Regions from separate parts of the Homo sapiens genome. Here regions 1 and 2 are each linked to region 3. The links come from fine-mapping of genetic effects on gene expression. A gene starts in region 3. Each other region holds a variant in brackets. All regions are shown on one strand. Distances are from middle to middle.

Region 1 (8,185 bases), 420 kb after region 3:
TATAACTAGCTCAAAATGATCACGGGTGAGCCTCATAAAGAACTTATCCTGAAGGCACATACACCTTTAACAAGGGCCAAAAAAATAACCCACAACCTATCTTACATTTTCCAGGCCACTGACAATACTAACAGTGGTGAATTTCCACTCCAGCATCAGCAAGTCCCTGACATCGAGAGTTTCACAGCAAGGTAAATCTAATTAAATTAGCTCTAGAAGACACCTCTGAATAACCAGCGGAATAAAAGTACAGAGCCCTACATCTTAATCACTGAAACAGGTATTTGTGGTTCACAATATTTGGTAGATGAATCACTCCGTTTTTTTTTCCTTAAAACAAATTAAGCTGAGCACCCAGCTTCTGCTCACCAAAGACAATGAGATATCCAATATCAGACCTTAACTGAGGCTCCCCCGCCCCCTCTATTAGATCATAAAAAACCCAGAGCTGATTTATATGACATCAAGAAAATAAGAAAGGAGTCTGGCTCAGGAAAACCACAAGGCCATTCCTCACAAGTGTCTTCCCCACTGACCACAGGCTGGACTGCTGAGGACCCACTGCTTCCAGAAACCACAGTAATTAATGTCCAGCCATCAAAGGCATCCACACTGACACCCTCTTCTCTTCTTGGGTCCTGCCATCCCAGGAGAGCCTGAGGGCCCAGAGTTCAGGTTTTCTGTGTGTTCTAAAGTACTTTTATTTCATCCTAAAGATGAGGAGGCCATCTTCTCTCTCTGAGATGATTCAGCTGAACTTCCAAGTGAAACCAAATTCCCTATTAAACAGAATATACTCAATATTAAAAGGCTGCCTTCTTTATGAAATAATTTTGTAATCCTCAAACCAATTGCGTATAAGGAAGAAGTTCTATTGGATGTGAGAATGCTCAGGTTAGACAGTTGGAAGAATATTAGGAAAGCAGTGGCTGGAAGACACAGCCATCAGAAAAGGCAGCAGAATTTCCTCTGGAAATTCTATCGAACATTAGGAATAACTGGGTGGGGTTGTCTTTTAATGAGGTCCTGACCCAGAGATGAATACAGATACATTGCATTTCTGAGATTTCTGTGGCTCCTTCTTTCGTTCCCTTCCGCATGGAATTGCCACATCATGAACATCCCACTTCTTAAATGTCTCTCACATACATTACTTCATGTCTGTTATTATTGCTGGTATTGCTGGGTTATTTCTTCTTATCTCTTATCCATCCGATTTTCAAGAACTTCCAAACTATTCTTTCTGTTACTAATCACCAACCTCCAGCATAACCAGTTCTTAGACAATTGATCCTTACTTCACCAGTATAAATTTCTTCAAGGGAAATGTTGACTTTATCAGTCTGCTGTTCACAAACTTTCAGTGACTCCTTTAACCAGCTGAATTAAATGCAAATTTCTGAGCTCTGTGTTTAGGATTTCTCTCTCTCTCCACCCCAATACTGTGTGTGTGTACACATGCACACATGCATGCATTTGATATATGACACCTTACTTACACACATGCACATGCATGCACGTGTGTGCACACACACAATGCAAGACCAAAGAGTCATGCAATAAAATCTGAATGTTAAAACTATTTGCAAAAAAAAAAAAGAAAAAAGCTTTTTCAAAGCCCCAGTGGTACTATGCAAAAAATAACAATGTGTCAAATATGATTCTGGACACAAGTAGCCCGTAGTCTACTGTGGTTAAGGAAACAGCTTGCCATGACCAATCAAAGGGAGAATTGATTCACCTCAGCTCTTGAGCTTTTAGTGGTCTGCATCTCAAATTCTATTTGTCTGTTTTAAATGGGCCCTGATCTCCGTGATCCATTGTCATCCTCCACTGCTCTGCCAGGAGCTGGAAAGATGAGCAGCCCGGCTTTGTGCCAGCTCTTTTGGCTGAGTGAGAGTGGTGGGATAGAATGCTGGAGAAGACCAGCTTCAGAGGCCACAGTTCCCAGCTTCGAATTACATGTAAAATTGTTTCCAAAGGATGCTTTCTTTTGAATATGAATTTCTAAAAGCTGACTTTTAAAATCATTTCTAAGTACCAAAAGAATTAATTTGTCACTCTAAATTTGTATTTGCTTTGGTTTCTCTTGCATTTCATCTTTTCTTCGTATATCTACTACCTCCGTCTTGCTCTATTTCTGCCCCTTAGATGTATCTGCCTGCAGCAAATGTACTTAGAAATGTATTTCCACAGACAGAGCCTGCAGGAAACTCAACAAAGTGAGTCGAGAAATGAGAGAAAACCTATATTGATCTCCCCTCCCCATCAGTGTCTCTCATTTGGATTCTGTTGCAACGTTGTGTTATTGCCTGGGAATGACAAGGTTTGCTGAGCAAAGAATTCTGAAATTAGTTCAAAGGCATTTCTACTTCTCTTCCTATTTTACAGAATGAAACCATAAATAAATTGAGCCCCATATTCAAACTAATCAATGAACACCAACCATCTCTTTAATGTTTCTGCTGTAAACTTTTAAAAGTAATAAAAAGACAAAACCACTTCCTGAAATGAGATGGAGGGAAAAGGGCAAGAGGAATATTGTCATATAGCTAATGAGGTAGTCCCCTCGATCCAAAACCCAACTGCCGAAATCAGATAGATTCTGTGGAGGAGGTGTTGCAGGTGAAGATTGGTAAATCCAAGAACAGAAGCAGGATGGCTCACAGCATCCATGGCCACCAGGAACATCTTTACTTAGAGTCAGTAGAACTCTCCAAGAGTAAGAGCTGCATTCTTGGGGATGAAGACTTGATCTGCCCACTCATCCGTCTCACTGTGCCTAAGGCAAACCCCTTGCCTGCATGTTTCATGGATCTAGCAAATTAATTTCTTCCTCTGCCTTCTTCCCTCTTCCTCTCAGAAAGCAACCAACCTCAGGGGTGGAGGGAACTAATATCTCCTGAGCACCTACACTGCAGGGCCAGGAACTAGCCCAGGATTCTTCTTGAATATTATTTCAGTCTGTCTCCATAATAACTCTGGGAGATGGAAGTGCTGTCCTATGGCACTGCAAGGAAATGGGGCTCAAGAGATTTATTTCATTGCCCAGGGTCACCCAGAAGGGAAGTGGCAGGCTAGGATGTGAACACACATCTTCGACTGGGTTTCCTGAAAGGCAGTTCCTGAGGCAAGCACTTGGGAACAAGTAGGTTTATTTGGAAGGTGATTCCAGGAAGCAGGAGGGAAGAGAAAGAGGAGAGAATGAGGCAGGGAGGGTGGAAATGGCCACTGAAGCAAGATTAATGAGTGATGACTGCTATGGGCAACAGAGTCTCAAGCCAGCTCTGTGGAAGGGTGTGGACTGCACCCAGAACTGGAAGGCTGGGGAATATCGCCACAAACCCTATGGGTTGGCAGCTGCTGCCCCAAGGGGTGTCATTTCACCCTCTGGGGGTGCAGGGGAAAATCCCCACATGCTGAAAAATGTCAGCATGCTGAGGACTGACTGCCACAGGCACTGGCAAACTCAGGTGGTGTTACAGAATCGGCAGGCACGGATGCTTGCTGTGCCATAACAGCCCAATA[C/T]AGCAGGGATGGCAGCAGAGAAAGAGTTCAGTGATTGCAGGGAGGCCAGGCCAGGGGACGGGAGGGGGCCCTCAAACCCATCTCCCCATGGAGGTCTTGGCTGGGGTTTTTAAGGGGATTATGGGGGCAAGGGCCTAGAAAACTGGGGTTGCTGTTTGGTTGTGATAACAGGAGTGAAATAATCAGGATGTGGAAACTACATTCTTTGGTGAGTCAGCTCCTCGTGGGGTCCTTCAGATTCATTGGCGTCAGTAGTTTCACGAGTTTGCAGGACCTGAAAGAATATCTCAAATAGAAAACTTAACCTTTTGTTGTTATCTATAGAGCAGTTAAGAGGAGCGAAAATCTTTTTTTTTTTTCCCAGGCTGGAGTGCAATGGCATGATGTCAGCTCACTGCAAGCTCCACCTCCGGGGTTCACGCCATTCTCCTGCCTCAGCTTCCCCAGTGCTGGGACTACAGGTGCCCGCCACCACGTCCGGCTAATTTTTGTATTTTTAATAGAGACAGGTTTCACCATGTTAGTCAGGATGGTCTCTATCTCCTGACCTCGTGATCTGCCCGCCTTGGCCTCCCAAAGTGCTGGGATTACAGGCGTGAGCCACCGCCCCCGGCAAGAGGAGCTAAAATCTTATGATAGGGTTTACATGATTCTAGGACAACAGGAAAACAACTACGAGGAAGCCGGGCAGAAGGCAAGCTGACCTACTGATTAGTGCTGAGTGTGCTGCAAGCTTGGTTTATCGTTGTTCCCTTCTTCCTTGATTGATTTTATAAAGCTTACAGGGATGCTTTCAGCAGGACCAGGGGTGCGGGTTAAAACACCCTGGTCATCTGCCACATCAGCTGTGCCTCCAGTGCCCACGGGGTCTGCCCCAAGCTTGTCTCCCACAGTCCTGTCGCCTCCTGATCACACACCAGTGGTGCTTCTTGCTCCACCCTGACTACAGCAAATGCTCCTTCCAAGATGGTCACTTGCAACTCAAACCACCAGAACATCGGAATGTCAGGCTCTGTGTGAGAGAGTTTGAAGGTTTAAAGGGAGTGGTTCTCAAAGAGGCATCCCACACCAGTAACATCAGCATTACCGGAACGTGTCAGACATGCAGATTCTCAGGCTCCTGCTGCATCAAAGCGCTGGGAGTGGAGAACTGTTATCTGAAGTTTAACAAGCTCTGAAGGTGATTCTGATGCACACTTAAGTTTGAGAACTACTGAGAGCAGTCTCTGGTGTTTCCCATAGAAATTTGCACTTAAAGATAGCAACTTAGAAACTTTTCTGAAAATTTAAATGGTTTTAATAGAAAGAGGAAGGGAGGAAGGAAAGAAGGAAGGAAGGAAGGGAGGGAGGGAACAAGGAAAGAAAAGGAACTCATTTGACCATTAAATATAAATCTTGTGTTTGTCATATTTTTGTAGAAAAGAGGTTCTTAACCTGCGGAATCACAAACCTCTCCTGCCACCATGGGTTTCTGAACAGAATTAAGAGAATTCATGAGGGAGAAGCACATTTTTATTTTCACTAAACTCTACTGAAATGTAACATTTTGTTCAATTTGAGTGTAGGTTGATAAACCACAGCAGTACTGGCCATTCCCATGATTTTGTCACCAATAAAACCACAGATATATGCAGATGCATTAGAGTTGTTGCAAATATCTAAAATATTACTTAACTCCTCACTACCTCAATCTTATTTAATGTATTAATTTAAAAAACAAAAAACACATGTATAAGAAAGACAAGGGAAAGATGGGGAGGATAAGAGGGGAGAAGCAGGGAGGGAAGGCAATCCACAGCATAAAGGGAGGAAATACTATGTATTCAGAGTAGTTCCTTTAAGAGAGCTGAACGCAAAAGCAAATGAGAAGTGGGAGGGCCAGGAGGAGGAGAGGGAGGGGGAGCAAGATTCAGCCTAAAGGAATAGGCTCAAGGAAAATCACATTCCTGTGCAAGTAGGTACTGAACATGGACACATACATCTCAGTCAACAATGGTGTGTTAAGTGCTTTCTCTGTTCCAGGCAGGATGCTAAGACCTAGGGAGAAAATGGTAAAACTGGACCCTTTTCTCAAACTCACTTTAAGCTCATCAAACCAGAACAAATATTTTCATCAAGCAAATATGGATCAACCATCTATATGCAAGTACTACTCATGATTATTAAAGATGAGGTCCTGGGACTCACAAAGTATACACTCTAGTTGATCGGTCAAGGCATAAAACAATTCAAAATTACAGGGGGTATCGATGAGCCAGGAAGATGTTAACAAGTTCCTAATCAGCATCCAGACCAGAGCTGTGACAGGGCTGGGGAATGTCGAAGTCAGCCTAGGGAGGTGCCACTTAACCTAGGGGGGCAGTAGGACCTCAAGTTTGGAAAAAGGTGATTAGACCAGCACGGCTGAAACAAAAGGGACATGTAGGACCGTGGAAGTGCTTGCTTAGAAGATTAAACCAGAGCCAAGACTGATGAGGTTCCAACGGCCAGGCTAAATCTAAAGTCCCATTAGCCACAAAGATTAATTTAGAATTAGTGTTTCTTTTCATACAAGGATGCCATTGATACAGAATCAAAAGCGGTTAAACTGTTTTCAATTCCCCTACATGACAAATACTTAATGTAACTAAAAAAATAATACTGCCAGTGGTAGTGTTCATCAGTCATACATATATATAATACATATAAATAGTAAATAATATTAAATAAAATATTAAAATAATAGTAATATATTTTATACAAATATTTTATATATATATATATTTAGAGACAGAGTCTCACTCTGTGGCCCAGGCTGGAATGCAGTGGCAGAATCATAGCTAACTGCAGCCTCGACCTCCTGGGCTCAAGCAATCCTCCCACCTCAGCCTTCCTAGCAGTTAAGACTACAGGCTCATGCCACCATGCACAGATAATTTTTTTTTTTTTGTAGAAACAGGGTCTTGCTATGTTGCCCAAACTGGTCTTGAATTCCTGACCTCGAGCGATCCTCTCACCTCAGTCTCCCAAACTGCTGGACTACAGGCATAAGCCACCGCGCTCGGCTGTTTCTATTCTTTATTCTTCCTTCTTTCCCCACATTATCTGATTGTCTGATAAAGTCAGCTTCAGAAGGTCTGGTGACCATCTATTTAGTTGCAAGCGCCATTCCTCGGTCAGTTGCGAGCTTGGGGCGCCCTCTAGAGGACTAATGAAATACGCCGGCTTGGGGCAGCTTTAAATTTGGGCTGCACAGAGGAATAATCCGGGGAGCTTTAAAAACTCCTGCTGCTGGGCCCCACACTTACAGATGGAAATTTAATGGTTCTGCAGTGTGGCTTGGGCATCAGAGTTTTCTAAAGATCACCCAGATTTATAATAATTCTTGGAATCAGAGAGTGTTGGCCCTCCAAATTTGTTGTTCTTTTTTCAGTGTTCTGGCTGTTCCAGGTCTTTGGCATCGCCATATAATATTAGAATTAGCATATCAATTTCCAAAAGAAAATGCCTGCTGAAGGCTGGATCAGTAAGTCTTTTGCCCTCCCTTCTGCAGCCTTCTGCCTGCTGGTGCCAAGCTGCAGAAGGGAGGACTTACCGATCCAGGAAGATGAGGAGAGATGAGAGAAGAGATGAGAGCCAAGGGAGGATGGATAAAAACAGCCAGCAAAGCAAAAGGCGGCTGGGACTAGGTGAGGGGAGGGACGACAAAGGAAAATAGTATTGCTTGCCATTCCATTGCAAAATTGATTCTATTGCTGTCTTCTGAACTCCCCTGAAATGACCCCACAAAGTGCACAATGCTCATCAATGCTTTCAGCCAGTGGACTTCAGGCAAAATTCAAAGGGGGTGTTGTTTCACGCATCCTAGGGCAAAGCAGAGACTGGAAGTATAAGAAGCCTGGAGACTGAGAAGGCCCTGTGAACATAAGCCTCCCAAAATTCTTAGCCAATCTTTTAGATTGGGTCTTGGACATTGATGAGCCATGGCATTGATGGCCAAGCTAGTTTACCTAGATCTCTGGAAGGCAGGATAGAAGACAATTTGATGAATGACCCATACCAGGGCATTGAACTTTCCTCTCCCATACACACATGAGATTCCTCTTCTGCAGATGAAGAAAGAGCCACCACCCTTTCTCGGCTGGCAGTGGGTAGGAGGGGAGTGAGTGTGAGTTAGCCAGAGTAAGGCTGGAGATATGAAATCAGCAGAAGGCACAGGGATTCCCTTGAAGAAGGCAGAGAAATGAAAATCCAGAGGAAAAATTAGTGAGCCCAAATCAGCACAGCAAAAAGGATTCACATGAAGAACAGGAAACAAAGAAAGAAAAATCAGAAAAGAATATGACTGTGCTCCAGAACTGATATCAGTTGGTAGTGATATCATTACATTTCATATTTCACAGCAACTGTAAATTAGAAGGGATTGATTATTTTCAAGTGCGGGGACATCAATATGGGAGGGAAATATACACATTCTAAGGCATTGCTAATGGTTCTGGACAATTAGGAACAGAGACTTCACAATATTTAGCCGCTAATAATCATAATTATATTCCAGGTGGTTGGGCACTACGTTTTGGAGATGACGCAATTTCTCAGAACAGATTTCCCAGAGAACAAGCTACATAAATAATATTATATAATATTTCATGATACTAGGGAAATGACATCATGTTTA
Region 2 (8,185 bases), 180 kb after region 3:
AGCAATGGCAGAAAAACAAACAAGGACATCAGGGTTAGGCAGTTTTATCAACCAAATCTTCCAGGTGTCAGACTGAGGCAGAAGGGTCAGACACGTATATAAGGTCTAAACAAGGGCGAGCATCTGGAAGTTCTGAGAGCAGCCTGGATTCCAAGGAGGAAGACATAAAAGACTAAACTCCAGTGCAACCCTGCATTCCTTATCATCCTCTTTTGTGTTTCCTGCAGGGGACCTCTTTGGCTCACATTGGCTCCCAGGTGTGTGTCTAGAGCCCTAAGACATCACAGAGAACAGAGGTGCACCCTGCTCATAGTTGCGACTGGGACAGAGGTGCCTACAGCAGGAGAGAGAGAGAGCCTTTCCCTAGTAGACATGGGAAGTTTAGGGAATCTTCTAAGGAAAAGTTCCCTACCAAACAAACGTTTCCTTAAAAATAAAAGGGGCCAGGGGCCAGCTTAGACATTGGTGTGTGTGTCTGTATGTTCTCGTGCACATGTGTAAGAGAGGAGACATTGGCCAGGCACGGTGGCTCACGCCTGCGATACCAGCACTTTGGGAGGCTGAGGTGGGCGGATCACGAGGTCATGAGATCGAGACCATCCTGGCTAACATGGTGAAACCCCGTCTCTACTAAAAATTCAAAAAAATTAGCATGGCGTGGTGGTTGGCGCCTGTAGTCCCAGCTACTCGGGAGGCTGAGGCGGGAGAATGGCGTGAACCTGGGAGGCAGAGCTTGCAGCGCCTCTGCACTCCAGCCTGGGCGACAGAGCGAGACTCCATCTCAAAAAAAAAAAAAAAAAAAGAGAGAGAGGAGGCTGTTCTATTGCTGTTTAACAAATTACTACAAATTCAGTGGCTTAAAACAAGACCCATTTATGATTTCACAATTTCCATGGGTCAGGAGTCCAGGCACAGCTTAGCTGAATCCGCCAGTTAGGTCTCAAAAAACTGCAGTGTCAGTCAAGACTGCCATGTGTAGGATCTTCTTCCAAGATCATTTAAGTTAACTGAATTCAGTTCCTTTTGCCTATAGAACTTATGGCAGATTTCATCTTATTTAAGGCCAGCAAAAGCAGGTCTCCTGATTTCCTGTCTCTGACCTCTAACCTTGCTTTTAAGAGATCAGCTGATGAAATCTGGTTTATCCTGGATGATTTTCCTTTGATTAACCCAAAGTCAATTGATTAGTGACCTTAGTTATATATTCTAAATTTCTCCACATTTGCCATAGAATATATCTATTTATAGGAGTAATATTTTACCATACTCACAGGTTCTGCTCACACTCAAGGCTGGGGAGATTATACAAGTTGTTTACACCAGGAATCAGGAATATTGGAGGCTATCTTAGAATTCTGCCTACCATGCGAGAAGAACAGAAAAAAAACCCCACAAAATTATTAACTTCCTAATAAAGAGAATTGTTGAGTTCAAAGGGCTGTATTTAAATATAATTGACATCTGGATCATAACGTTGTCATGTGACATTGTGATGTCTGCTCCGGATATAGTATAAAACATGAAATGGGCCATTCCCCTTCAACAGGGACTCAAATACACATGGATGCTGACTACAGTGAGTGTTTTATTCAGATCCACATAATCATGGAGAAGGGTCAGTTAGAGTTAGAATTTTATTTACTGCTTTGGAAAATGCACAAGGAGAATCTTACTTGTAAATCCTGACCTGTAGATGACTGGGAGAACCTTGAAAATAATTGTCAAGACCATGGGTGGATCCTTTCAATGAGAAGAAAAAGAGCTGTAACTCCCACAGTACAGATGAAGTAAGACAAGTGAGGCTGGATCTCATCTTGAACGTAGAACTGGTGGCTCCCAAATTCCTAATAACCAGCCATGAAAGCTTATAGATCTGACCATAATATGTTTTATTCAGGTTACTGTCTTTATCAGTAGCTCACATTTTCCTATTAACTGCATTTTCTTAATCTCTAGGAAACTCATTGCTCTAATTTATAAAATAATTAGTATATAACTTGATTTAATCATTTCACAATGTATACATATATGAAAACATCATACTCTATACTGTAAATATATACAACTTTTGTCAGCTATACCTTAATAAAGCTGAGGACAATAAAAATTAATGAATAAATTGTTTTTAAAAAGAGTTGTTTCACTTGTTTTGGAACATTATGGTAAAATTGTGGGCCTTGTTATCTGGACTTCATCAACAGATCACCTTCAACTGGAGAAAAAACTGAGAAAAAAGACTATAAGAGATGCTGTAGTTTTTGAAAATTGGAGGGATATGTAAAAACTCATTCTCTTCTCTTCGAATAGAAATTTTGTATTTGTCAGTGACAGAGACCACACGGAGGGTCTTATTACAATTGTAGTTAGTAGTTTTACCTGCAGCTTCATAGAAAGAGGGATCCAGGATAAATATAGGAGACTGTCACTCAGTTTCTAAAATGCTTTCTCTATTCGGATTACAGCAAATAGCCCAAAGCCAGAGCATGCTATGATTAAATTACTTTTCCAGTAGGAAGGTTATCCATGCCTAGTGATTCTCTAACTGGCATCTCAGTGCAAAATTCCACTGTGCTCAAAGTTCCTGGTTCTAGGGGCTTTCCTGGAGCCAAGGAGATATGTTTTTAGGAAAAACAAAACCAGCTTGTTATATTGTCTTTTGTATTTATGATAACAAACACATACTCACTATGGCTCATTTATGAGTGAACGAAAAGGTGTGGAGAAAGACCACCTCCGTGCTGAGCACCATAACTTTTTTGCTCATACATTTGACAGATACTTGGGGAGCATCTTCCCTGCCTGTCTGTTGCCATGCCTTGCTCTGGGTGCTGAGATACAACAGTGAAGAGTCCCCTGTGGTTGGGTTGCCGCTAGGGCTTGGGTATTGTGAGAGGTCAGACAGGTTTGTCTCCTGTCACGTCCAGGCCTTGGAGGTTCTTTTAGCCTGGTGGTGACACCAATGTGCACTGCATGTTCCTGTTGGTGTCCTAATTTCGGGCACAGCTTTCCAACAGGGACAGGCCTCCTCCTCCCAGCTTCCTACTATGATGCTATCAGCTCACATTTCCTCAGCATGCTTGCTTGTCACATCCAGGAAAGTGTTGGTTTCCATAGTAACAGTGATCATATATGCAGAAGATTTGGCTTTCTGACTTATTAGTGACTCTTTTTCCTTCATGTGATCTATTCCTACAGTCCCAGGGAAATTTAGCTGCAATACCTAAGAAAATTTACTAACATGTTAACAAAAATTATCTGGGTTAGTAGTGATTCCTTTTTGCATTTATCTGTATTTTTTTCAAATTTTATGCACTGATGATTTATCTCTTCTGTCATTAGAAAAAAATTAAACTTGTCAGGCAGTCACATAAAAAGCATCAAATACAATGGGCTAATTCTCTGCAGTTTTCTAAGGACACGTGCATTCAACTCAAGAGAGTGGCATGGGCATAGCAAATATGATTCTTTTATGACTATTTGCTCATGAAAGCTGTACCGTCTACCCTTCAAAACAAGGCAAATCATGTAATGATTAATATAATGATTAATGGTTTATGTACAGATGTTATTTTATTTGTAAAACATGTGTTTGAGATTCTGGCACTCAATAACATTCTAGGCCTCTGGGGGAAGAAAAAGGAAAGAAATTAGAAGGCTTTCTTGGATTCCCTTTGTTAATTTTAAAATAAACCTATCTTTGCAGGAGAAAAATCTCCCACCTTTCATAAGATGTTGGTACTATTTGCTCATTACTAGTTTACTTTCTAAAAACAAATGTAACACAAAGTGAGAGAAGTAACTTCAAACCCTTAGAAATGACCAGGCCCAATGTACCTTCCATAGCAACTGGTGTGGTAAGGCATACCAGTGTACTGGAAACCTTCATGTGTACTGCCAAAAATTTTAAATTATAATTATAGCAATGCCACTGATGGAAAGTTAAGATCAACTGAGTTTTTGACAAGGTATGGAGTAGCATCAGCCCAACACTAGAGATAAATGAAGCTTTTACTAAAATACCACAACATGCTAAAAATTTGCTTGTGAATACAGACGAGAGTCTCTTGTGACAATCAAAAGTTCAACACAGTACTAGAAGAAAAGTGAAGAGAGTAACATACAAACTGTGTCTAACTTTTATAGAGCTTTTGGGATATTACTGTGCCACAGTGATGATAGTACTATAATTATCACCGATGTGTTTAAAGCTGTTTTGAGTCTTTTAATCTCTTCTGGGACTACCAAAAATTCTAGTTTTCAAAGTTTGCCATGAATACACAATTACATGTACATAACCTGGACACACACAGGTATTATAATTAAAAATAAACGCTTGTATTATAAAAATCCCTCTTCAGCCTCCCCCGAAGGCAGTTACCCAATGTGTGCTTAACTTTGTCCATGACTGGAAGCTCACTATCTTACATGGAAGCTCTCTCGACTTTGAAAAAAAGGTTAATTTTAAATATAGTTTTGTTAAGTTGATGTGAAGTCCACCTCCCCGCAATATCTACCCACTTGTCCTAGTTCTGACCTCAGGAATAAGAGTGGGTAAGTGTAATTCCTTTCCTGTAGGACAGACTCTGAAATATTTGAAGAGCAACATTGTGTTCTCCCCAAGTGTTCTCTTTATGCACTACAACGCGAATGTTTG[C/T]CTTAGAAAACAAGACTGTTTAAACATGTTTTGATCTAAGAATCATTTACGCAAAGTCATTTCACTGTGCAAGAGGATCTATAATAGTTTCACATTTCAAGTATTTTTTTGTTTAACTCTACCAAATCTGTCTACATCTAGAAATACAACTAGTACAGCCAGTGTGAGATTAAGCCATGCTTCTACTGATTCTGGTGTGTCCTATCTGAGGATGCCAGAAGTTGTTCTCTGCAACACTGACCATCCCTGACAACGCCATTACATTAACACCTTTATAAAAACCCATATTCAGGACTCTATCTGCTGAATTGATCCTTGGGAAGGAATTTTGCTCCTTTCTAGGGGTGTGTTTCTCAAAACATTTTGCTGTGCGGTAACCAGATATGATGAAAGATAAATTACCCAAAAGTTCAAGAGATGAAATTTCTGTCCTTGAATAAGGCCAGAATAGTTCAGAACTTTTGAATGTGCTCTCTCCTCCAACCCAACAGAAATTGACTATGGAGTCTTCTAATAAATCAACGGGTTTTCTTAAAAATCAATTGTCTTGAGGACTGCTGAATATGGATAATGGGGAAAGGTGTTTTTACTCTTCTGCTATTGGGTGTTCTGACATTTTCAAAATAATTTTTTAATGGAAATCTCTGCATCTCCAAATCCCTGACAAGAGAGAAAAATGACATTAATGATATTAAAGAAGCCTGCTTCTTTACTCTTGTCAATCTGTAAAGGTTTTCTTTTTTATAATGTAAATTTCATGAGGCAAAAGTGAACATCACATAAGTCTGCAAGTGTTGTTTGGTAGTACTGAGCTGCTCATGCTATAAAGCAAGGCTTGGTTGAAGAAAAATACAGCAGAGCCAAAGTAAGAAGAGGGTTGAGCAGGAGGAGAGCTTGAGATCAAATGTATGTGGCTAGAAAAAAAAAACTGCTTCCAGGGAGTTGCTGAAGAAAAAGTTAATTTAATATGTGAGAATCAAAGGAATATACTGAGGTTGAAAACCAATGTTGAGTGTAGTTGTAGAAATAAGGACAGATTGGGCAGAAGCAAAGATTAAGAGGTTAGAGTTCTCAAACTGTTTGTGGTAATGCTTGAATCCAATCTATATGACCAGTAGGCAGCACGTGTCATGTGCAAATTGCCATGTGAGTTGTACTCCTGAACCAGTTTATGCAGAGCTCAACAAGATGAGTTTGGTCATCATGCACTTGGATATCATGTTGTGGTAGCTAGTTTCCAAAGACAACCCTGATGAAGAACACTTTCTGGTATTCCTATCCCTATATGTCCCCTTCTTCCTCTTACATCTGGGCTGTGCCTGTGGGTGTGAGCAACAGAATGTGGTAGAAGTGATGCTGTGTGACTTCCAGGCTAGTTCACCAGAAGTCTTGCAGTTCCCAGCCCTGGTCTCTTGCTGTGTGTTCTCTAGGAGAAGCCACCTACCAGTTAAGAGGTAGGACTATTCTGAGACCACCACGGTGAGAGGAAGCCCAACCTATCCAAATGGAGAGGCTGCATGGAGACACATGCCCACCCAGCCTCCAGCTGTTCTAGCCATTCAGAAGAGGTGCCCAGTATGTGAATGAAGGAACCATTCTGGAGACCTTGTTCAACTGAGTCGTTAGTTAACTCCAGCTCCAGCTGCCTTCTAAAAGCAAACACAAGACAGACATCACATGAGAAATGCCCAGCTGAGCCCAATCAACCCACATAACCATGAAATGTGATAATACATTTTTGTTTTAGACCACTTTGTTTTATTTTGGATGTTTGTTAAACAGCAATTGTTAACCAGAACACATGGCAATGGCAAATTTCCATAAAAATGTCAAAACACTCTCAGTTTTTGTACTTCTCTCACTGTGTGCCGTTAATAAGCACTGACTTCCACTTTGAGTGAGATCAGCTTATCTGCTTATACAGAATCCAGGCAAGACTTAGAAAAGGAGAGAGAGATGAGCGTTGCCTTTACCTGAGCTTTCTTTGAGCCTCTCTGTACTGAGCCTTGCATGTTATAGAAATGACTAGAATCTGCAGGGGGTATCCTCTATACTATCAACTCAAAGGGGCTTCCTTTCTTTGCTTTCTGAAGTTTCACTCTAAGATTTGTTACTTGGAGAGGACTTCAGGACAAATTTGGCCTGTTTTAGTTTCTTTTTAGTGGTTTGAGTGACCAAGAAGTATCATTTTAAACTCAGCTAAGATGAAGGGGATTTTGATTAGGAAAACTGTGCCTGGCACGTCAACTCTTTTGGGAGAACACAGGCACAGGCTTATAGTTTCAAGAATGACCTCAGGTTTCCCTATGATGTATTTTAACCATTACAACTAAGATCTAATCCTTACAAATTCCCTAGGGTCGGAGACTGACCTTCTTCTGAGTTGGTAGGGATTTCAGGATTCTAGATCTCATCCATTTAGCATTAAGTTACCTTGTTGGTGCTCCTATTCACCCTGTATTTCAGGTCGGGAAACTGGACTCTTACGTTGTTTTCCAAGTACATTCTTTGAGCAATCCTCCATTCAAAGTTTTTAAAGTAAGTTCTGAGTTCAAACCCTTTTATGGGAGTTGTATGATCTTACACATGCAATCAAACCCTTCCATGGCTCACTTTCTTTGCCTTATAGAGGTCAATAGAATATCTTTCCCTGGCTTTTGGGAAGGTATAACAAGTTTGTGTACGAAAGTCGTTAGAGTATTCAGCATACGGTAACAGCTTAAATGGTAGCTGCGGTAGTGGTAGCAGTATTCCTGAGAGTATGGTGATTCTGAACACTTAACCATTTCAGAAACAGGAATCCTGCTTCTGAGCCAAGCCTTGTAGGTAGTCTTTTGCAGGTATCAGACTTTCCCCTCTCAGGAAATGAGCCAGTGACCTCTTTCTGGACCTCTAAGGAGGGTACCAACTCATTGTCTTCTCCTGGAACCTACACTGATTATGTGCTGTGAGCCTAGGGGTCATTTTCACCTATTCTGCCACTGATAAGGCTCTAAATTTAACACCAAGAAAATGTTCTCCAACAAAAATTTTTCAAAGGAAACTGTTTTTTGTGATCTTGTTTTAAAATCCTGAGCAGGTAGCTCCTTAATCCACAAGAATAAAGACAGGAATTAATCTATGGTTCCATTGATGTAAAGGAAGATTTTCATTTTAATAAAAAGCACATTGAAACAAGGCTTATAGCTTGATCAGTGGACCAAGTTTTGCATTTGTTTTTAATGCCTATTGAGTTTCATTGCGTTGCTGGCACCTAATGTGTTCTGCCCCATCACTCCATTTTTCCCTTTTCCATGTGGCCAATCTTTGATGCATCCTATTTCCACATATCCAATAGTTTAAAATAAAGGGGAAAATTGAAATCATTTAGAATCTCACTATAGTATTGTTTTTGTCATAATCTTTTGAACACTTATCCTCAAATCATGTCCCTTTGCTTTCAAAATGTGGAAACATGTGTTTTATAAAAGTATATTCCTTGGTTAATCAATAGCAAATGTTTTATTCTTTCTCCATCTTTCTCATTCTTAT
Region 3 (8,185 bases):
GGTCTAAAACCACAAGAAACTCAATTCCTTTAAAGCCGTGAAAATGCTCAGAAGAGGGTTGTTTCTTGGTCATGCCTCTAGATGGGACCCAGCAGCCTATACCTTGATTTCAGCCTGTGAAGACTCGAGCAGAGGACCCAACTAAAATGTGCCAGACTCCTTACCCATGAAAACTGTGAAATAACAAACTTGTGTGGTTTTAGGCCACTAAGTTTTTTAGTGATACACAGCAATAGAAAACTGATGGTCTTATAAAGCTGTATGCATGCATATCCTTTTACTCAACAATTCCATTTCTAGGATTCCCTGTAGAAGGCCATATATGTGTTTGCCAAAATACGTAGACTTTAATATCCACAAAAGCTATATTTATAATAGCTAAAACCTGAAAACAAAGCAAGTGAGTGAGAAAAGGACTTAGGGATACTGGTAATATTTTATTTCTTGATTTGGGTGCTGGTTACACATGTGTGCTCAGTTTGTGAAAATTCCCTAAGCTGTGTTCTTTCCTAAATTATACTTTAATAAAAGTGAAGCGACCAGAAATTTATTAATTTTTTACTACCTGGCAGCATAATGATTATTAGGTTGTTTTCAAAATTAAAAAATTCTCACACATTATAAAAATGGTCACATGATTTTACTTGTGTAATCATTTCAGCATCTGTCCTCTGTGGATAAAACATAAAACACACCATAATACAATGAAACCCCTAGGATAATATCAGGTTCTTTTTAAACCCTAACTCTCACTTGATTTTTGGTTAATCTTCAACAGGTTGCTTCAATAAATAATTTTTGTTTTCTGTTTCAAATCAATTAAAATTAGTAGCATTTTGAGAATTTTAAGGCACTCTTTGGAATAATGCTTTTGTCATTACTGTAAACTCATTCACTCTCCTAGACTTAAGTATCTTTTCTGATAGACATAGGTCTTTGGGCCAGGGCCAGGTCATGATAAAATAGAAAGCTTTAATCTCCATAACCTTTTCAGAGGTAAAGTTATAGGTGCTTTTATTTCATTTTAGAGAGAAAACAAATGTTTGTTCATGGTCTTATAAGAATCAATCAAATAATTGACAAACAATTAAATATTCATATACAGGCCACCATGCTAGATATGGAGACTATATAAAGATATAGTATGTCATTTCTCCTCTTGGAAGATTTATAGTCTACCTGAAGACATAAATACACGTACCCATTAGCTAATGACATGTTCATGTGTTAATAGAAAATAAATGATAAATATAATAAAAGTAAAAAGAAAAGGGAAAATAGCAGAGCTCTAAAATTGTGTCTCAAGGGAAGAGTTCTTGGCAGTCAGGGAAGGCTTCCTGGAGGCAGCATGATGTAGAAAAGCAATTATTTTTCAGTTAAGCAAATTTGGTTTTAAGTCTGAGTTCTTTTACTTCTCAGATATAAGCAGATACTTAACTTCTCAAGGCCTTAAGGTTTTCATCTGAGAATTACAGCTGATGCCAGTAATTTCTCTCATAGATTTGTGAGCTTAGAATGAGATAATTTAATAAGAAAGCATGTTCTTCTAGCCTCCATTGCTGACCTTTCATATGGATGAATAAATAACCACTGAGAATCTTTTGTGTCTGACACTGAGCCTCGGAGCAGGGAGCAGTAGGGAGTTGGGAAGCATGCTAAGCATCAGAGCAAGGAAGGAGAAGGACATAAGGGCCTCTAAGATGCACAATAACAAATGTTGGCAAAAGTACAAAACAGTATGATGAAAGCAAGATAGGACGGTGTCTGGGAAACCTGGGATAATAAATACAGACAAGGAAGTTTCCTTCAAGGCTGGCAAAACAGTAATGTGCTGGTTACAGGGAGGAAATGAGAAATATAGGAGGTATCATCCCTGAATATTTACCTTTTAAGTAGAAATACAACAACTGAACCCATATTTACTTATATACCTGAAATAATGAGGAAAAGTGATGGCATTTATTAGCTTATGTAGTGCAGTGTTTGCCTATCAGTCGCATAAAAATTTGGAGGAGGGAAAGCTCACTGTGGTCTGTAGCATCAGGAAAGGTTTGAATTTAGGTCTTGAAGAATGGACAAGACATGGATCCAAAAGGAGGTTTATTCTAGGCAGATGTTGCACCAGGCAGTCCCTGTTACTTAAACGTGTAAAAGGGGAAAAAAAATCACTGGATTTGGTTGTGGGGTACTACCTGAGAGGTTATGGAGAAGTAAGGAGAGAGGTCTCTCAGATGGGAACTGCAGGTTTCAGGTTGTGATGCAAAATCAGTGTGCTCCTCTCCAAGAAAGAATGAAGGACAAAGAGGCCTAGTTATCTGATCTCTGATCCTAAGGGCACATTTTCAAAGGGGGCAGCAAAGAGAAGAGAAAACCACTGAGAACAATGGTTTTCAGAAACCTATGGCTCCCTCCCACTCCCCCGCACCCATGAAAAGGTGTGGGGGAGGGGGAGGGAGCCACAGGTTTCTGCAGCAAGATCACACTCAAGAATTAAAATCCCTTTTCAACTTATCTCAATGCCCCACATCCCCTGAAAGCACCTAGCTTGCTTGGGTGGGTACTAAGGAGTAAAGAGCATGGGTTCACTTCTGAAAGATCTGGATTGAAGCCCTTGCCTGTTTTTATCTCGCACCCTTTTCTGAACCAATTTCCTCAACGGGGCCATAGGCTCAATAATGATAGTAGCCTCCTCAGAGATGTTGAGAAGATTAAGTAAAAATCTATGTAAGGACTCCAGCACGTAAGCTTCCGTATAACTAATAATAATCACTATTATATTTTATAATGGCGTTTGGGTCCTGGGTCTTGCCAAGTTTGGGGTGGGGGGGAGTGAAGAAGGAAGGTCGGCTTCTTTATTGTGTTGGTGTCTCTCAAAACAGCCGGCAGGCCACGGGCCAAAACCACAGCGGGGTGCTCCCTCCGCCGGCGCCTTCTTTCCCCTGCTCCACCCACGCTTTCCAGAGCAACAAGTTCCTTTCCGCAAGACCCGCCCGCGCGCCACCGGCGGACCCAGAGCCTCTTCCCAGACCTCTGTCAAACTCGTCGCCAGACCCTTCTGGGGTCGAAATTCCGGTACTGCCTACGCCCTTAGGAGGAGGGAGAGGCCCCCACACCTGGAGGAGCCCTGGCGGTGGCTGGGAGAGAGGCGGGAGGCTTGGGAAGTCAGGACAGAAGAGACTAATAAGAGCTTCGGTCTGCGCGGCCCTTCAAGGCAAAACCAATAACCAAAAGCACCCACCGCTCATCTCACTCCTCTCTCTTCCTGGGATCAGGAGCGAGATGGAGCCTAAAATCTCAGGGACCTCCACCCAGCCCTCTGGTAGCCACATCTCTGTCCTTTGGGTTCCCCTCGCCCCACCTTCTCTCTGCACCCACACTCCACCCCAGCCTGCGCCAGGTCCCCTAAGGACACTGGAGAACCCTGATACATCTTTTGCAGGAGAGACACGCAGGTCAGCCACAGCCCCCACCCAGCGCCCTTCTCTCTGTCCTCCCAGGATGAGTACCCTGGAGTCTCCAAAGGAGATCCAAGGTGTCCAAAGCTGGGAGGCTCACCTATCTGCTCAAACTGTCGAACTCTGGCAACTTCTTGGAATGGGGATCCCCACGCTCTAGTGGGAAAGCCAGGCTGGCCGCCCACGCATCAGGAGAGGACACCTCGACTTCTCCGTAGGGAATCCCCCTCAAAATCCACCTCTCCAGCTCCTGTAGCCGGGAGTTGAGAACTAGGGAGCCAACCAGAAGTGCGCTCCAGGGGTGGGCGGTCGTGGGCGGGGGTGAGGGCGCAGAAGTTCCGCCCCGATTTTAGAGACCAGTTTCTTTCCAAATCTAGAGTCAGGAAGCCGTTGTTCCCGGAGAGGAGCAGGGACCGAAGTCCCTGGGAGGGAAGTCCTCCCGGCGCGGGGTGGGAGAAACACCGAGGTGAATTGCAGTGTCCAAACGTCCAGCCTCGTCTGTAGGAAACTATTCTTTCTCCGGGGGATGGGGGTGGGGGAGACTTCCCTGGCCAAGTAGCCAACGCCAGGCTTAGCTGTTCAGGGCTTCATCCCTCCATCCCCAGGCAGCCTCGAGAACTTGGTACCTCGGACAGCATCCCCGGAGCATGGCATCCTGTGAAAGGTGTTATCCTATTTTCGCCATCAAGTCAAAGAGCAGTAAATTATTTTGATGACCTTACTAGTACAGATGAAGGACATTTTAATTACATAACCGGTGAAAGATCACCGGAGGCAATATCGTGTTAAAGAGCCCATGGCAGAATATCTGCATCGCATGAGAAAGAGAGAAAACTTGCAAATCTGCAATGAGATTGCGCAGGGCTGCCCCCCCGTCCCCCCGTTTTGAAACAACATGCGAAATGCATGGGAGAGCTTACCTTTCGGACTCCAAAGCCGTGTTCTGCTGCAACTTGGCGAGCTTTGTCCTCTCCCCCTTTATGCAACTCCACAAGAAAATGATTCGTGAAGACCGGTCGCTCAGCAGATGCAAAAACCATGACACAGAAGAGGAACCCGGCGGCCGCCTTCCACTGGGAGACACAACCACCCTTCATCCTTCTTTGGGAGTGAAAAGTGGTGCTAGGAGGCGCGCAGGCTGGCGGAGCAGGGGACTCGGAGGGAGGGTGCAAATAAAGAATTCTTATATATAGTTTTTAAAAAAATCTTTGTATAGAGAAAGAGACTGAACAGGGTCTTGGAAAGCAGCGAATCAGTGTGTGTTCTCCAGCATCTGGCTGGAGGGGAAGCCGTGCAGTCAGGCGGCCCGGCGCGCGGGCAGGGGTGCGAATGTGGGGAGCTGTGTGTACCGGAGAGAAAGAGCGAGTGTAGGTCTGTGCTTGATGCTAAATCTGCATTTTCAGCTCCTCCTCAGCTCCAATTCCCTAGGGGCTGGGGGAGAGCACCAGCTCGGGTGACGTGAGTCCGCCAGCGGCCAATGAGGGCGGGGGAAGCGGCGGGCCCCGCCCTGGGCCGCCCCGGGCCCGCCCCCGCCCACCCCCGGCCCGGCCCGGCCCGGCCGCCTCCGCCTTCTGGGGGCGCAGCGCAGCGCAGCGCAGCGCAGCGAGCCCGCGCCCCCGCCCCTTTCAGCACCGGAGAGCTCCCCCATCTCAGCCTGGCCCGCCGCGCGCCCAGGAAAATCCCCCCAGCTGTAATCAGGCCAGCGGCGGCGGAGTGATGTCATTGTTTGTGGGAATCTGTAGGCTCTGGGAAGGGAATTACGGTGTGTGCCGCTCTCAGAGGCCCCGAGGGGAGCAGGGGCGCCGGCCTCTGTGCCTCTTCCTGCTTGTTTCCCGCTGCAAAAACACCTCTCTCTCTCTCTCTCTCTCTTTCTCTCTCTCTCAAACACACACACACACACCCAAGGCATACTTGCCTCCCCTTATCCGAATAACAAAGCAAATATTAACCCTCCTCCCACCACTTTGGGCAAATCCCCGGGGAGGTTTGCTCTCCTTGGCACCAGGAGGGTTGGGGAAAGCACCTTCTAGGGGTGATCCATGGGGGGCGAGAGTGCAAGGACGAGCCCTTGTTTTTTGTAGGCTCCAGGCAGGTCCGGAGCGAAGCGGCTGGGAAGCCCAGCAGGAGACCCGGCTCGCCCCACCCGCGATGGTGACTGGAGGAGGCTCCTCTAGGAGTCCTGGCTGCACCTCCAAGATCTGCCTTCAGGAGAGACGCGGCCGGGGTGGACACGGCGGGAGGTGCATTCTCAGACCTGGGGACGTTCCACTGCACAAGGACAGCGAGGGTGCTAGTTGGGGAACGCATAGCCACCGATCCCAGGCGCCGGGCCAAGTCGCCCGCTGAACGTCTTCTACTGGAGGCGAATTCGGGCGCAGCGACGGGGGGCAGGGGCAACTAAGTTATCCGGTTAAGAAACGTGCACTCGCACTGGACTCTGCTAACTGCTGACGACGGACTCCGCTTCTTGCCTGAGAGGGAGGAAGCACGAACGTTCTGTATGTAACGAAATGAGGACGACTGTTTCAAAGCTACTCAAATATTGTTGTGTTAAAGAGTATTTACACTGATCTCATTGTATCATTTAGCTTCAAAGCTCAAAATTCTGCTTTACTTAGATAAGAGGTAAGAGATCTTTTCTTAGGGGCTTAAGTGCATGCAATTCAGAGAGAGAGGAAGAGACTATTTATACCATCGACACGTTACACACACATTCTCATGTATACACATATTCCTCTCTTTTTATTTTAGCTTGAAGTCCAAATCTACACAAGTCAGAACCTATGCAAGAAAAGCACCATCGGTAGAAATGAATACACTTTGAATGCCATGGACCACCCTGTCTTCAGAGCATGTCTGTTTGCTGACATAGTTGGCTCCCTCATAGCCCTTTAAAAAATTGTCACGTAAAAATGTGGGCGTTGCTGAAGGTTTTTATTAAAACATTAGAAGTCTATGTGACATTATTTATTATTGTTATTTGAATTCCTCTAAGAAAATTAAGCTATCTGTTAGGACTTAGGGCCATGGTGGAGGCAAGGTTTCTGGAAAAGTATTAACACGGTGAAAGTATTAATAAAGGGAAACAGATCAACTCTGGGCCCCTCAGCTCACTACTGCTCAGAGGCTCATTTCTGCCTTTGTTCCCCCTTTCTATTACTCTATTGTTTAACAGCTTACCCCCTCATAGTCCATCCGTTTGATTATAACACAAGGTTTTCATGTTTCACCGTGTTAGTCAGTATGGTCTCTATCTCCTGACCTTGTGATCCACCCGCCTTGGCCTCCCAAAGTGCTGGGATTACAGGCGTGAGCCACTGCGCCTGGCCACTTCATTTCTTAAATAGTTTCCAAATATGAAATGCTGGTAAATGTTGAATCTCATATAGCTACATTTTAAATAACTAAAACTGTGTAAAATTGGCCAGAAATGATATAAAACCTGAATGACTAATTAAAATAAGTCCTCTTTAGTGGTTTACATAAAATACAGCTCATCATAATATTGTCAGGACAGAATAGCAAATGGAAAGATAATTTTTTTGGTTATTCAAATACTAAATTTTCAATACACAACAATGTAGTAAGCAAGTGGAAGAGGAAATGTATTTATCCCTTGGATATCTATTGATACATTGTTATTTGAAATGCTAATACACACCCATGTGTGCACACAAATTGCTCTTTTAGACAACTATTTCTCAAACTCCTTTTTCCAATAACAATAGTCAAGGTGGACAGTAGAGAGAATGGCAGCAGCACATTTTGAGGATAGACCTAGAAGCCTGTTGCCAGGGACCCTATTGCAGGCTCTGCTAGTACTAGGTATGTATACCACTTGGCTGTGGGCCAACATATTGCACCTCTCAAAGTCTCTATCTTTCTATCTGTGAAAAGAGACTGTTGGATTAGATACCTCAGAGCCAAAGTCTATAATTTCAAAAGAGTTGTGAAAACATACGCTGTAATGTAGGAAGCATCATCAATAGTTTGAGAAATGCTGAGGACCACAATACTATTTAATAACATATTGTGGCCAACAGGCATACTTATTTTTGTGTAACCTCCCCCAAATGGTCTCATATTTATCAGTTTTGTGTACTTGAAAAAATAATAACTGACACAAACAGATTGACAGCACGAGATATAAAAATCACCAATACCTGGAGCTTCTTTTCATTTATTTACTTTTGTATCTGTAACAATGACGTCGGGTGTTTGGTTCTGGCTCAGATGTGCCACAGGCCCCCAGAGTCTCTTTGAAGATGTTGTCCTGCAAAACAAGACTAGAACTCTCCCATTTTATGGCTTAATACTAGAAATCAAGAGACCTTGGGTGATTTTTTAAAAAACCAAAACCACCTGAGGCATGATTGGGATACTCACATTTAGATGTACTTCTAAAAGGAGAACTTTGGATTCATAGAGCATCATGCCAAGGAAAACCTACCACTGGGGGTACAGAGCAAGCCAGAAGCAGCCGTAGGAGAGTCCCCCAAACCTTTGAATATTCTTTGGACTACTGGAGAAAGATCTAATTTTTCTGTTGATTTCTCTTCAATTGTGTGGGATGTGTAATCTGGAGAGAAATAGGGTATATACCACTGAAAATCACAATTTAAAATACAGCCTTGTTAAAAATCAGGTTGGGCTTTGCCATTTTTGCTGCATTCATTGCAAACATTTTAAATGCAGTAATGGTACATTAATCAGGTAGGAACAATTCTCTA

Direction of the effects. Alleles are on the strand shown, and positions count from the first base shown. SD is a standard deviation of normalised expression in the study named. Not every link is listed here.
As copies of C replace T in region 2, the expression in thyroid of the gene that starts at base 4,818 in region 3 goes down (small effect, 0.39 SD a copy in GTEx).

Evidence for each region. PIP is the estimated chance that this variant, and not a neighbour inherited with it, causes the effect.
Region 1: its variant is fine-mapped to the expression of PCSK2 in lung (TOPMed, PIP above 0.99).
Region 2: its variant is fine-mapped to the expression of PCSK2 in thyroid (GTEx, PIP above 0.99).

Annotation. Positions count from the first base shown.
Region 1 is chr20:16,802,659-16,810,843 of GRCh38, reverse strand. No RefSeq gene overlaps it. Among named protein-coding and RNA genes, the nearest start is that of OTOR, 58 kb to the right of the region's middle. The variant C/T (reference allele first, on the strand shown) is at 3,529.
Region 2 is chr20:17,039,932-17,048,116 of GRCh38, reverse strand. No RefSeq gene overlaps it. Among named protein-coding and RNA genes, the nearest start is that of PCSK2, 180 kb to the left of the region's middle. The variant C/T (reference allele first, on the strand shown) is at 4,655.
Region 3 is chr20:17,223,673-17,231,857 of GRCh38, reverse strand. PCSK2 (proprotein convertase subtilisin/kexin type 2) reads right to left here and starts at 4,818. Exons shown (of 12, transcript NM_002594.5): 1 at 4,376-4,818. The coding sequence starts at 4,552.